Linked DNA regions of Homo sapiens. The protein of the gene in region 1 interacts with the protein of each later gene in a pairwise test. Each region holds a gene or a part of one and is shown in the gene's direction. Other genes may lie near its edges.

The links.
Region 2: the proteins of CADPS (region 1) and TSEN2 interact in a two-hybrid assay, tested with the Homo sapiens proteins (one large-scale study listed by BioGRID).
Region 3: the proteins of CADPS (region 1) and SEC23A interact in a two-hybrid assay, tested with the Homo sapiens proteins (one large-scale study listed by BioGRID).

What each region holds. Positions count from the first base shown.
Region 1 is NC_000003.12:62,756,917-62,760,416, reverse strand, and holds part of CADPS (calcium-dependent secretion activator 1), read left to right. Parts: intron 1-3,500.
Region 2 is NC_000003.12:12,504,852-12,508,585, forward strand, and holds part of TSEN2 (tRNA-splicing endonuclease subunit Sen2), read left to right. Parts: intron 1-302; coding exon 303-380; intron 381-1,856; exon of another isoform or gene 1,857-1,984; intron 1,985-3,734.
Region 3 is NC_000014.9:39,040,581-39,044,314, reverse strand, and holds part of SEC23A (protein transport protein Sec23A), read left to right. Parts: intron 1-1,442; coding exon 1,443-1,529; intron 1,530-3,427; coding exon 3,428-3,583; intron 3,584-3,734.

The sequences.
Region 1 (3,500 bases):
CTCTAAATAAATTAAAAATAAAAATTGTGTCCGACAGAGGTGGGTTGAGTTCTAGTCCTGTTACACACTGACTCTGGGACCTCAGCTATGTCTGAGCCTTAGTTGCTTCATCTTTAATAGGACCTTCCTTGCCTAATTGCTCTCAAGACTAAATGAGAATATATATACCTGGACAGTTCCATTATTAATATATTAAGGTTAGAATATATTAATATATTAAGGTTAGAAATGAGCATGGTGGTATGGTGTCCATATGCTGCATAGAAATAGAAGAAGAGAGTTGAAAGTTGATAGAATCAATTCACTCCCTGGGCATGGAGGAAGGGAGGTGCAAGATGGAGCAGGGGAAAAGGGCATAGAAAAGAAAAGGGAAAGTACTTTTGCTCCTAATCTAGCACCACCTACCACAAGGTCATGGCCCAAGATCTGCTTCTGAAACTTTGCCCAGAATCCTTTACTTTTTGGTGAAGAAGATTTTTAAGATTTGAAAATACATTTTATTTTAGAAATGAAAATGCACCTTGCCTCAAAGAAGGTAAAATTTGTATTTTTCCAGGTAGAAAAGATGTGTTTCAAATGACCGTGAAAGTAAAACATGCCCACTATAAAAATAAAACAGACAATGTAGAAAAATCTCTGCATTTACATGGTTAAAAAATACTTGCAATCCCATCATCCTAGATAACCAAAATTAAACTTTGGTTTCTATCTTTCCAGGTACTTTCAATGTATCTATGCATGTCAAGATAACTATTTGGCTTGCATATTAAGGTGGGAAATTACCACAAACTATTAAGGACCCACTTCTTTTATTTAACACAGTTGTTTTCAGTCTCCTTCCTACCTTTCCAAAGGTCACACAAATGGCATACTCTCATCAGTAAACTGTCTTATTTCCTATGGTATTCTAAATCCAGAGCCATGTTCCTATCCTCCAATCCCACCTCACCCCTGCCATTGGAAGGCTCTGGTCCATTATAACCATATATCATGGACATCTTTGGATGGTAATGAAAAAATATATATCTTTTTTCATGGCTGCATGATATTCTATTTAAAAATAACAGCTAACTTGTATTACATTCTTAGCCGAATAGTAGGCAACAGGCTAACCAACTTGCAGGCATAATATCACTGAATCAGGATTCAGGGATCACCAAAATCCTACAAAGGAAGGTTGTTATAACTCCCATCTTAAAGGTGAGGAAATTAAAGCCCAGGAAGATTAAGTAACTTGCTCAGGTGGCAAAGCTAGCAAGCAACAGAGCCAGGATTTGAACCCAGGTGTTCTAATACCAGGGCCCATCCTCCTAACCATGATGTCTACCCCTTTCATTATTTATGTGCCCATTTATTAATAGCAACGAGGTGTGTGTTTCTTGCAAACCTTACTTACTCCAACATCTAGATGTTTTTCTTATTTATATTGAAAGGATATGCTTTTTCAGAACAGGAATGAATCTGCTGTGGCTTCTCAGCTTATCAGCTAGCAAATGGGAGCTAGGCCAACCTCATCTGTAATGTGAACAGTCACTAAGTACTGATGTGTTTGTATGTTTCTAAAATGACCTTGAGGTTGCTTGGCTCTGGTGATGGAGGGAAGGACTGATGGATGAGGTCGAGTTGCTGAATTGACTGTCCTTCACAATTCCATATTTATTTGTTTATCTTCCATCTCTCATTATGACCTGTCTGGAAGTTGGCAGAAAAGCAGGGAGGATTTATGGATGTGCCCAGATAGAACTGGGCTTGGGGTTAAAGTCTCTTGTGGCAGCCACTAAAAAGCAAAAACAGAAACAAACACGGATACAAAATACAGACAGAGCTCCCAGCACAATTGAGTTTGAATAGTTGTTTTAGAGACACACAGGCACATCAGTACTTAGTGTTTGTATTCATTATAGGGTGAGGCTGGCCCAGGCCCCACTTCCTCTTTGTCAGACTGAGAAGCCAAGACAGATGATGTGCCTGTAGAAATAGTTTCCTGCTGCCACCTTCTCTCCTCATGGCTGTCTTGTCTCCATTGGGCAATTCATCTTTACTGTCTCCCCAGTCTTTGGCCTCTTTCCTCCATGTTCTTATCATTCCACTCATCTCTCCTCTTTCTGGGATCTGGCAGTTGTATCTTAACACAGGACAGATAGATCCCTCCACTTTTCAAAGTCTTCTCAGTTTGATCCTCAGCAAAGAAGAAAGGCTGGATTCCTTCATTGTTTACCATGAAGGAGAGTGAGACTGATGGAGGTTAGGTGACTTGTCTTCCACTGGTAATTCAGAAGTATTTATTGAGTAGCTACTATGTACAAAGGAAGGGGCTAGTGAAGCAGATGCTATGCCCAGGATTCAGGGTTCACCTGATATGGTTTGGCTTTGTCCCCACTCAAATCTCATCTTGAATTGTAGCTCCCATAATTCCCACGTGTCATGGGGGTACCCAGTGAGAGGTAATTGAATCATGGGAGCAGGTCTTTCCCATGCTGTTCTCTTGATAGTGAATAAGTCTCAAGATATCTGATGGTTTTATAAAGGCGAGTTCCCATGCACATGCTCTCTTGCCTGCTGCCATGCCACATAAGACGTGCCTTTGCTCCTCCCTTGACTTCCACCATGATTGTGAGGCCTCCCCAGCCATGTGGAACTGTGAATCCATTAAATCTCTTTCCTTCACAAATTACCCAGTCTTGGGTATGTCTTTATTAGCTGCGTGAGAACAGACTAATACATCACTCAACCAGTTACACCAGCTGGGACCCAAGTGCCAACATCTTTATTTCTTACCCCTTGTTATCAGGCCCCATGGAAAATCTAGCCTAAGTCTCTTGTTTTAAGAGACCAATATACCGTGTGCTGGTTTCCCGTTGACCTTCTCGCCCCAATCCAGACATAGTCTCGCTCCATATTTTTCCTGCTAGAGGAGTCTGCTTTGCTCTTATAGTTCATTCACTCATTCCACAAATATTTACTGAGCACCAGCTACATGCCAGGCACTGTCTCAGGCACTAAGAAGCAGTAATAGAAACAAACAACGACTACCCTGCCTCCCTGGAACTTATAGTCTAGCTGGAGATCAGATATTTACCAAACAGTCACAAAAACAGTGGCAGATGGCAGCTGTGGAAGGGCTTTAGGAAAAAAGAATCTGGGGCTGAGAGCTTATAACTGAGGCCCATTTCGGGTTTGTGGGATACTAATGTGCATAGATGTAGAGGAGAATATAGCTTCATTGTTGATTGAATGTTTTCAAGTCACCCCTTATGTTTATTAGCACTGACAACAAAGGCTTAACCCCTTAGTGTCCCCACTGCCATCACACTCACCCGGTCTCGTACAAGCACCTCTCAACTGGCCTCCCTGCCTATTTTCTTGGCTCCCTTCATCAGTCTCTTTTCCACATTAAAGCCAAAGAATGTGAACTGGTTTGTGCCGTGTCCCAGCTTAAAACTTTCAATGGCTTTCCAATGCCCTTAAAATGAAGACCAACAACCCTAATCCCCTCCTCC
Region 2 (3,734 bases), about 50 Mb from region 1:
TTAGCCAGGCATGGTGGCACACGCCTGTAGTCCCAGCTACTGGGAAGGCTGAGGCAGAAGAATTGCTTGAGTCTAGGAATTTGAGGCCTCAGTGAGCTATGATCACACCACTGCACTCCAGCCTGGGCAATAGAGCAAGAGTCCGTCTCAAAAAAATTGTGTTTTAATCATTCTTTATAATATTAACACAATAGAATGTGAATCCTGGGAATTTATAAGAAAAATGTTCATTTTAAAATACATTCTCTATGACATGTAGTGCTTCCATTTGTTCTGTATATATTGTATTTCTTTCTCTTTAGTTGGTGCAAAGAAACAGGTTAATATGCAGAAGAAATCCATATAGGATCTTTGAGTATTTGCAACTCAGCCTAGAAGAGGTATGTTTTCAACATATTATTATTTCAGCCATCGGTCTCTGGGCCTGAACTACACTATATGTGAACCTACCTCACAGTGTAGTTCTGTATGTAATTCAATTATTGAATATTGTAATTCAGTATTGAAATCACTATGGGTAGCTCCCAAGTAGGCCTGCCTTTCACTCCTCAGCCTTTATTTCATCAGTTCTAAGATATGTGTTTGCAATCATTCCACAGAAGATTCGAGGGGTTTTTCTGAGTACTTCTTTTCTCATTAAGATTTTAGATTGTTAGGCCGGGTGCGGGGGCTCACACCTGTGATCCCAGCACTTTGGGAGGCCAAGGCAGGAGGATCACCTGAGGTCAGGAGTTCGAGACCAGCCTGGCCAACATGGTAAAACCCTGTCTCTACCAAAAATACAAAAATTAGAGTGATTGCTCATGCCTGTAATCCCGACTACTCAGGAGACTGAGGCAGGAGAATTGCTTGAACCCGGGAGGTGGAGGTTGCAGTAAGCCAAGATCGTGCCATTGCACTCCAGCCTGGGTGACAGAATGAAACTCTGTCTCAAAAAAAAAAAAAAAAAAAAAGGCTTTATGTTGATGGCTAGGTGTGATGGCTTATGCCTGTAGTCCAGCCACTTGTGTGGCTGACGTGGGAGGATTGCTTGAGCCCAGGAGGTCACGTCTGCAGTGAGCCACGATTGCACTACTGCGCTCCAGCTTGGGCGAAAGAGTGAGACTCTGTGTCAAACAAAAAAAAGAATAAAAAGATTTCAGATTGTTAACAGATGCTGACTGGTGATGCCGGGGGTAGGGGGGTGGAAAGAAGAAAAAAGTGGATTTCGGATTGGCTGAATATTTTGTTACTAATTTTCACTAGCTTTTTCAAAAATACTATAATTCATATACCATACAATTTATCCACTTAAAGAGTACAAGTCGCTATTGTTTGGTATATTCATGGAGTCTCTACTTTTCATATACTGTGCTACATGATTCAGATCATGTAGTGACTGCTAGTTAAGTAAATGGATTTATTTCCTTCTGCAGGATCCCTCTACTTAATGCAGTAGCTACATTCTTGAAAGTTAGCTTGGGCCTGGTGCCATGGCTCACACCTGTAATCCCAGCACTCTGGGAGGCCAAGGCAGGCAGATAGCTTGAGCCCAGGAGTTTAAGGTCAGCCTAAGCAACATGGCAAAACCCCATCTCTACAAAAAATACAAAAATTAGCCAGGTGTGGCGGTGCATGCCTGTAGTCTCAACTACTTGGGTGGCTGAGGTGGGAGGGTTGCTTGAGCCTGGGAGGTCGAGGCTTTAATGAACCGAGGTCACGCCACTGCACAAGCGAGATCCTGTTTCAAAAAAAAAAAAAAAAAGTGGCTAAAAGTGGCCTTCCATAAACTGCATCATATTGTCCCAGTGACCTGGAGTTCCTCTAACCTGTGGTCACTTTATGCTCAGACCCTCTTTTCTTGCTTATGTTGATAGTGCACACAGAAATGTCTTTTCTGCCTTTGAAGCTAGGACCGCTTCTTGGGCTCCCCTCTTCTCCAGGAGCTCTGTGATGGCTTTCTTTGATAGTTCCTGCAGTGTCCAGTGTGGTTCTTGGCATACAGGTAGGTCCCAAGAAGTGCTATGGAACACATCCATGTTGGTAATTTTATAGCTGAGACCACAGGAAAGTAATTGTGGGGGCCGGGCGCCGTGGCTCACACCTGTAATCCCAGCACTTTGGGAGGCCGAGGCGGGTGGATCACGAGGTCAGGAGATCGAGACCATCCTGGCTAACATGGTGAAACCCCATCTCTACTAAAAATACAAAAATTAGCTGGGTGTGGTGTCACACACCTGTAATCCCAGCTACTCGGGAGGCTGAGGCAGGAGAATCACTTGAACCCGGGAGGCGGAGGTTGCAGTAAGCTGAGATTGCACCACTGCACTCCAGCCTAGGTGAAAGAGTAAGACTCCGTCTCTAAAATAAAATAAAATAGAATAAACAATTCAAAATTCCTTTTCTCGGTTGCACCAGCCACGTCTCAAACACTGAACAGCCACGTGTGGCCACTGGCTACTGTATTGAACAGCAGATGCGTAGGCATTCCCAGCACTGTGGAGCGCTTTATAGCCCACATGTACCCGTTCTTAGATGTTTGGCCTGTCAGAACCTCAGATTTCTTCTCTGTAAAGTGGGGGCTATGTAACATCTTGTTCATAGGATGTTCTGGAAATTAAATAATACATGTAATTGGGTCAGGACAGTACCTGATAATATAGTAAATGCTCAATAAATGTTAGTGCCTGCTATTTTTGTCATTATTAAGTTACTTGTAAAAGCTAATTAGCAGCTTGTTGGAACCTTCTTTTTTACAATCACAAAAATGCCCATTGGGTACCTACTATGTGCCAGGCATTGGGCTAAGTGCTACCGATACTGAAATAAGTAGAATGTGACTTTGGTCTTAAAGATAGCCCAGAAATCATTACAGTTCAGTGTGATAAGCATAGTGTGGCATATGGATCTTGTCAGTATCGCTCTTCCTGTTTCCTTGGGCCCAATGCCTGACATCTATTAGGTGCGTAATACTTATTAAATGAATGAATGTACAAGATAGGGAATTTGCATCGAAGCTGGTGGAGACCATCTTGCAGGGCTGAGGTGGAAAGCTTTTGCAGTCATGATAGCTGAGGATAGTAAAGGATAAATGGGGCTTGCCACATGGACACAGGGTAGTAAAGGCTCTTCCAGATAGCTCTGCCAAAACGAATGCCAGATGGGGGAGGGTGTGTCCATGAGTCAGGGTCTGGCCTGGTCCTGGGCCAGCAGGGCACTGCAGGGGATTCCGTAGGGGAGTGGCAGTGACCAGAGCTAGCATCAGTATGGAGGGTGGGCTGGAGGCCTGGCCTGGGAGGTGGCAGCTGTAGGCGAAGGGTATTCCGTGTCAGATGCTGGGAGTTCAGCTGCACTGTTCCAGTTGACCAGCTGCTGTCTTTTATTGACAAATTTTTTAAAGGCTGCTGCTGCCTGCTGCCTCCTCTTGAACACCCCCTGATGAAAGGCAAGAGTAATAGGAGACAGGAGATGAGGTTACTCTGCCTTCTTAGAAGCTGCCTGGCACCTGAGAACATTTCAGAGATGTGTTCCAGAAGTTTTCAGGGAGCACACCGTTAAACCTAGCTCTACTTGTCTTTCTGTTTTGGCAGATTTCTTTTGAATGAATCACCTATGTTTGGTGCACTGCATGTACCCGCGGAGTGTTTCTGTGAATGTTAGTCAGGAACACAGGCAGAATGGGGTCTCACCCCTGCTGTGGTGATTCACAACAGCTCTCTTAAGGGACTCAGAGTGGTGATACACAGCTAACTTAG
Region 3 (3,734 bases), on another chromosome or scaffold:
TTTAGAAGTAACTTTTTTTTCTTCTGAGTAATAACGTGCATGTAGACATCTGAAAAATGTAGAATGGTGTTTAGAAGAAAATTGGAATCCCACTGTCCCTAGTGCCTGCTCCTATTAAATTTCAACCTTTTCATTTAATCCATGAATCCTATCAGCTTCATGTTCTTAGGGTTTTGCTTTTGGAGTTATCTTCTTTCTGTTCTATATAATTACTTTCTGTCCATCTGGATCATTCTTATTAATTAACATAGAAACCATAACAACAGTCAGGTTTATAACAAACGGCCAAAACACCCCCACCATGACCCACGCTTTCTCTAACTGCCACCCCATTTCTCTGCTCCTGGTGAGAGTTGAACTCAAAAAAGTTATTTGTTGTTTATACTTTCTCACCTCACATTGTCTTCTCAACCTATATAAGTAAGACTTTTGTCCCTAACATTATATTGAAATGGCTCTTATAAAGACCACCAATGTCCTACATCTCACCAGAGCTCTCAACAGTATTTACCTAGTCTTCACTAGTACTCAGCCCTTGAAAACCTTTTGCCCTAGGCTTCTGTGACACCTATACCTTCCTGGTTTTCCTCTTACTCACTCACCGTTCTTTCTCAGTCTTTTGCTAGCTTTTCCCTTTCAGACCTCTAAGTGTTGACATGCTTAAGGGATCAATCTTCTGGCTTTCCCTGTCTTCCCTCTCAGTGATGTAGTCTAATCCCATTGCTTTAATCTTTGTGCTTTAATCTTTGTGCATGTGACACCTAGATTTATGTCATCAGTTCAGACCACTCCCTTTCATTTCATATGCAGAACTATTTTCCCATGTGCTCCAAATTTGCTCTATCCCAGGCCTTTCCCCATTTAGGCTTAGGAGTTATCCTTGAATTCTTCTTGACTTTACTCTATTTTTAAATTGTTTGTTACCTCAGCTTAAAGGGATTCCTTAAAAAATTAAAATACACTATAAGAATTCATAATAGCAAGAGATTTTAGGTAATAAAATATAAATTTCAAATTTAGGCCATCATGGCCTAAGTTTCAAATTTAGTGCTGAGCCTGTAATCTCAGCCTTTGGGAGGCTAAGGCAGGAGGATCACTTCAGCCCAGGAATTTGAGACCAGCCTAGGAAGCATAGTGAGACCCCATCTCTACAAACAAAAAAATGAAAAAACTAGCTGGACATGGTGTTACACACCTGTAGTCCCAGCTACTTGGGGGTCTGAGTTGGGAGGATTGCTGAAGCCTGGGAGTTTGAGGCTGCAGTGAGCTGAGATCATGCCACTGCACACCAGCCTAGGTGACAGAGCAAGACCCTTCTCCAAAAAAATAAATAAATAAATAAATAAAAGAAACTTGGAAAATAACCTGGAAACATCTATTTTATATTATTGAGTAGATTATTTTTCCTTTTTCCTCATTTCTCATTGTTTTCTTTACGTTAGCCGGTTCTTCTTGATAGCAGTAGCATTCTTGCAGATCGTATTCTTCTCATGGACACATTCTTCCAGATTTTGATTTATCATGGTGAGGTAAGATTTCAATAGCATTTAAAGCTATGCATGTAAAGTCTTTTTACTTAGAAAGGTTTTCTTACTTCTAATTGTATGGCTAGTGTTTCATCTATGATAAACTTTGATTTCCATTTTTATAAAATAATAAAATATGATGCTGCCTACTATAAGGTTTTAGGCTTCAATTGCAGTTGACCCACATGTGATTATTTTATTCATTTGTCACACAATTGGATTTTGCGCAAAGCACAGTGTTGTGAAAGTAAGAACACTGACTGTACATAGACAAATGGCACTTTTGGGTTTTACCTGAAAACATTAAGGGGGGAAAAGTCAGCCTTTGTCAGTGGGCAGGCTTTCCTTTTACGTTATGCAATCATTATAAGTTATTATTAAGTGTTCTACATGATCTTGAAAACTCATTTAAAGCATACATGAATTAAAATTTGTAACTTCATTGGAATGGTAAATGATTACAGAGAGCAGAAGATTTTAGTAGCTATTAAGCTTTAATCCAGGTATTTAGCAGACCTTGATGCATTCCTGCAGTTACTCATTCAGCCAATTGTTAAGTGCTTCCTCTGGATGCTTTGGAAGATATAGATGTGTTCTTTTTTCACAGATCTGTTCTCAAACTTACAGTCTAGTGTTTTACTAAGTTCTGCAGATTTATTTTTTCAGTTGCTTTAATTGTAAATGATTTTAGATTTGCACTGTGACTGGGTGTGGTGGCTCACGCCTCTAATTCCAGCACTTTGGGAGGCCAAGGCAGGAGGATTACTTGAGCCCAGGAGTTCAGGACTAACCTGGGCATCATAGTGAGACCCTGTCTCTACAAAAAAATTTTTAGAAAAGATTTGTACTGTAATAGTAAAGACATTACTCAAAATATTCTTTGAAGTAGTACTACCCAGGACTTTTTTTTTTTTTTTTTTGAGACTCAGTCTTGCTCTTTCACCCAGGCTGGAGTGCAGTGGCGCTATCTTGGCTCACTGCAGCCTCTGCCTCCCGGGTTCCAGCGATTCTCCTGTCTCAGCCTTCTGGGTAGCTGGGATTACAGGCACATGCCACCACGCCCAGTTAATTTTTGCATTTTAGTAGAGACAGGTTTTCACCATGTTGGCCAGGCTGGTCTCGAACTCCTGACCTCGGGTGATCCGCCCGTGTTGGCTTCCCGAAGTGCTGGGATTATAGGCGTGAGCCATCGCGCCCGACCTACCCAGGAGTTTTAAAAGATTTAATTATTATTATTGTAAATTATTTTTAATTGATACCAGTTTCTAATGCCCTTTACTTGTTAAGAATAATACCTGTTTTAACTTCTTGCCTTTGTTAAAAAAAAAAAAAAAACCTGTAATACTGACAGGGCTTTTTTTTTTTTTTTTTTTTTTTTTGCTTTTTCTTTGTTTTATGGTGATTTTTACTTTTTCAAGTAGCTTGTTAAAGGAGAAATCAGAAATGCACATGATTGTTTTATACAGAGGTATAAAGCTATAAAAGAATGTGTTGACTGATTCAGCTAACTTAGAAAATAAACCAGGCATAAGTTTTTAGATGATTTAATTACATGGTGTTTAGAGCTACTTACCTATGGATTGATTCAATTGCTTTCACGTATCATAAGCTTAGGTAGATAGCTTTTAGCTAACATTCATTTGATAAGCATAGTGTTTTAAAAATTTTCTGACTTATGTAAGTATTCTTTCATTTTACTTTTAAAGGAGAAGAAATATTCTAATTTTATATTTATTAAGAATATTTTCTCTACTGAAATTGTAACTTTTAAAAAATTGAGGTAAATGGAATAATGGTCTATAATTTTTTTAGTTTCTAAAGATTATTTTCTTTGGAAAAATCTCAAGATTTTTGGATGGGCAAGAAATTTAAAGTAATTTCTTTAATTGTTTTAAAATTAGACCATAGCACAGTGGCGGAAGTCAGGATACCAGGATATGCCTGAGTATGAAAATTTCCGCCACCTTCTGCAAGCCCCAGTGGATGATGCACAGGAAATTCTTCACTCCAGATTTCCAATGCCAAGATACATTGACACTGAACATGGAGGCAGCCAGGTAAGTAGTGTTAATTTGTTTGTGTGTTTGTTTGTTGTTAGGTTTGCAGTGAGGTGTACCTGCTTGCCTTCTGATTTTAATAGATTGCTTCATAAAGCAGACAGAAAGGTAAGGAGATAGGTGGGGAAGGTATCAGTGCTTACTTTTTGCA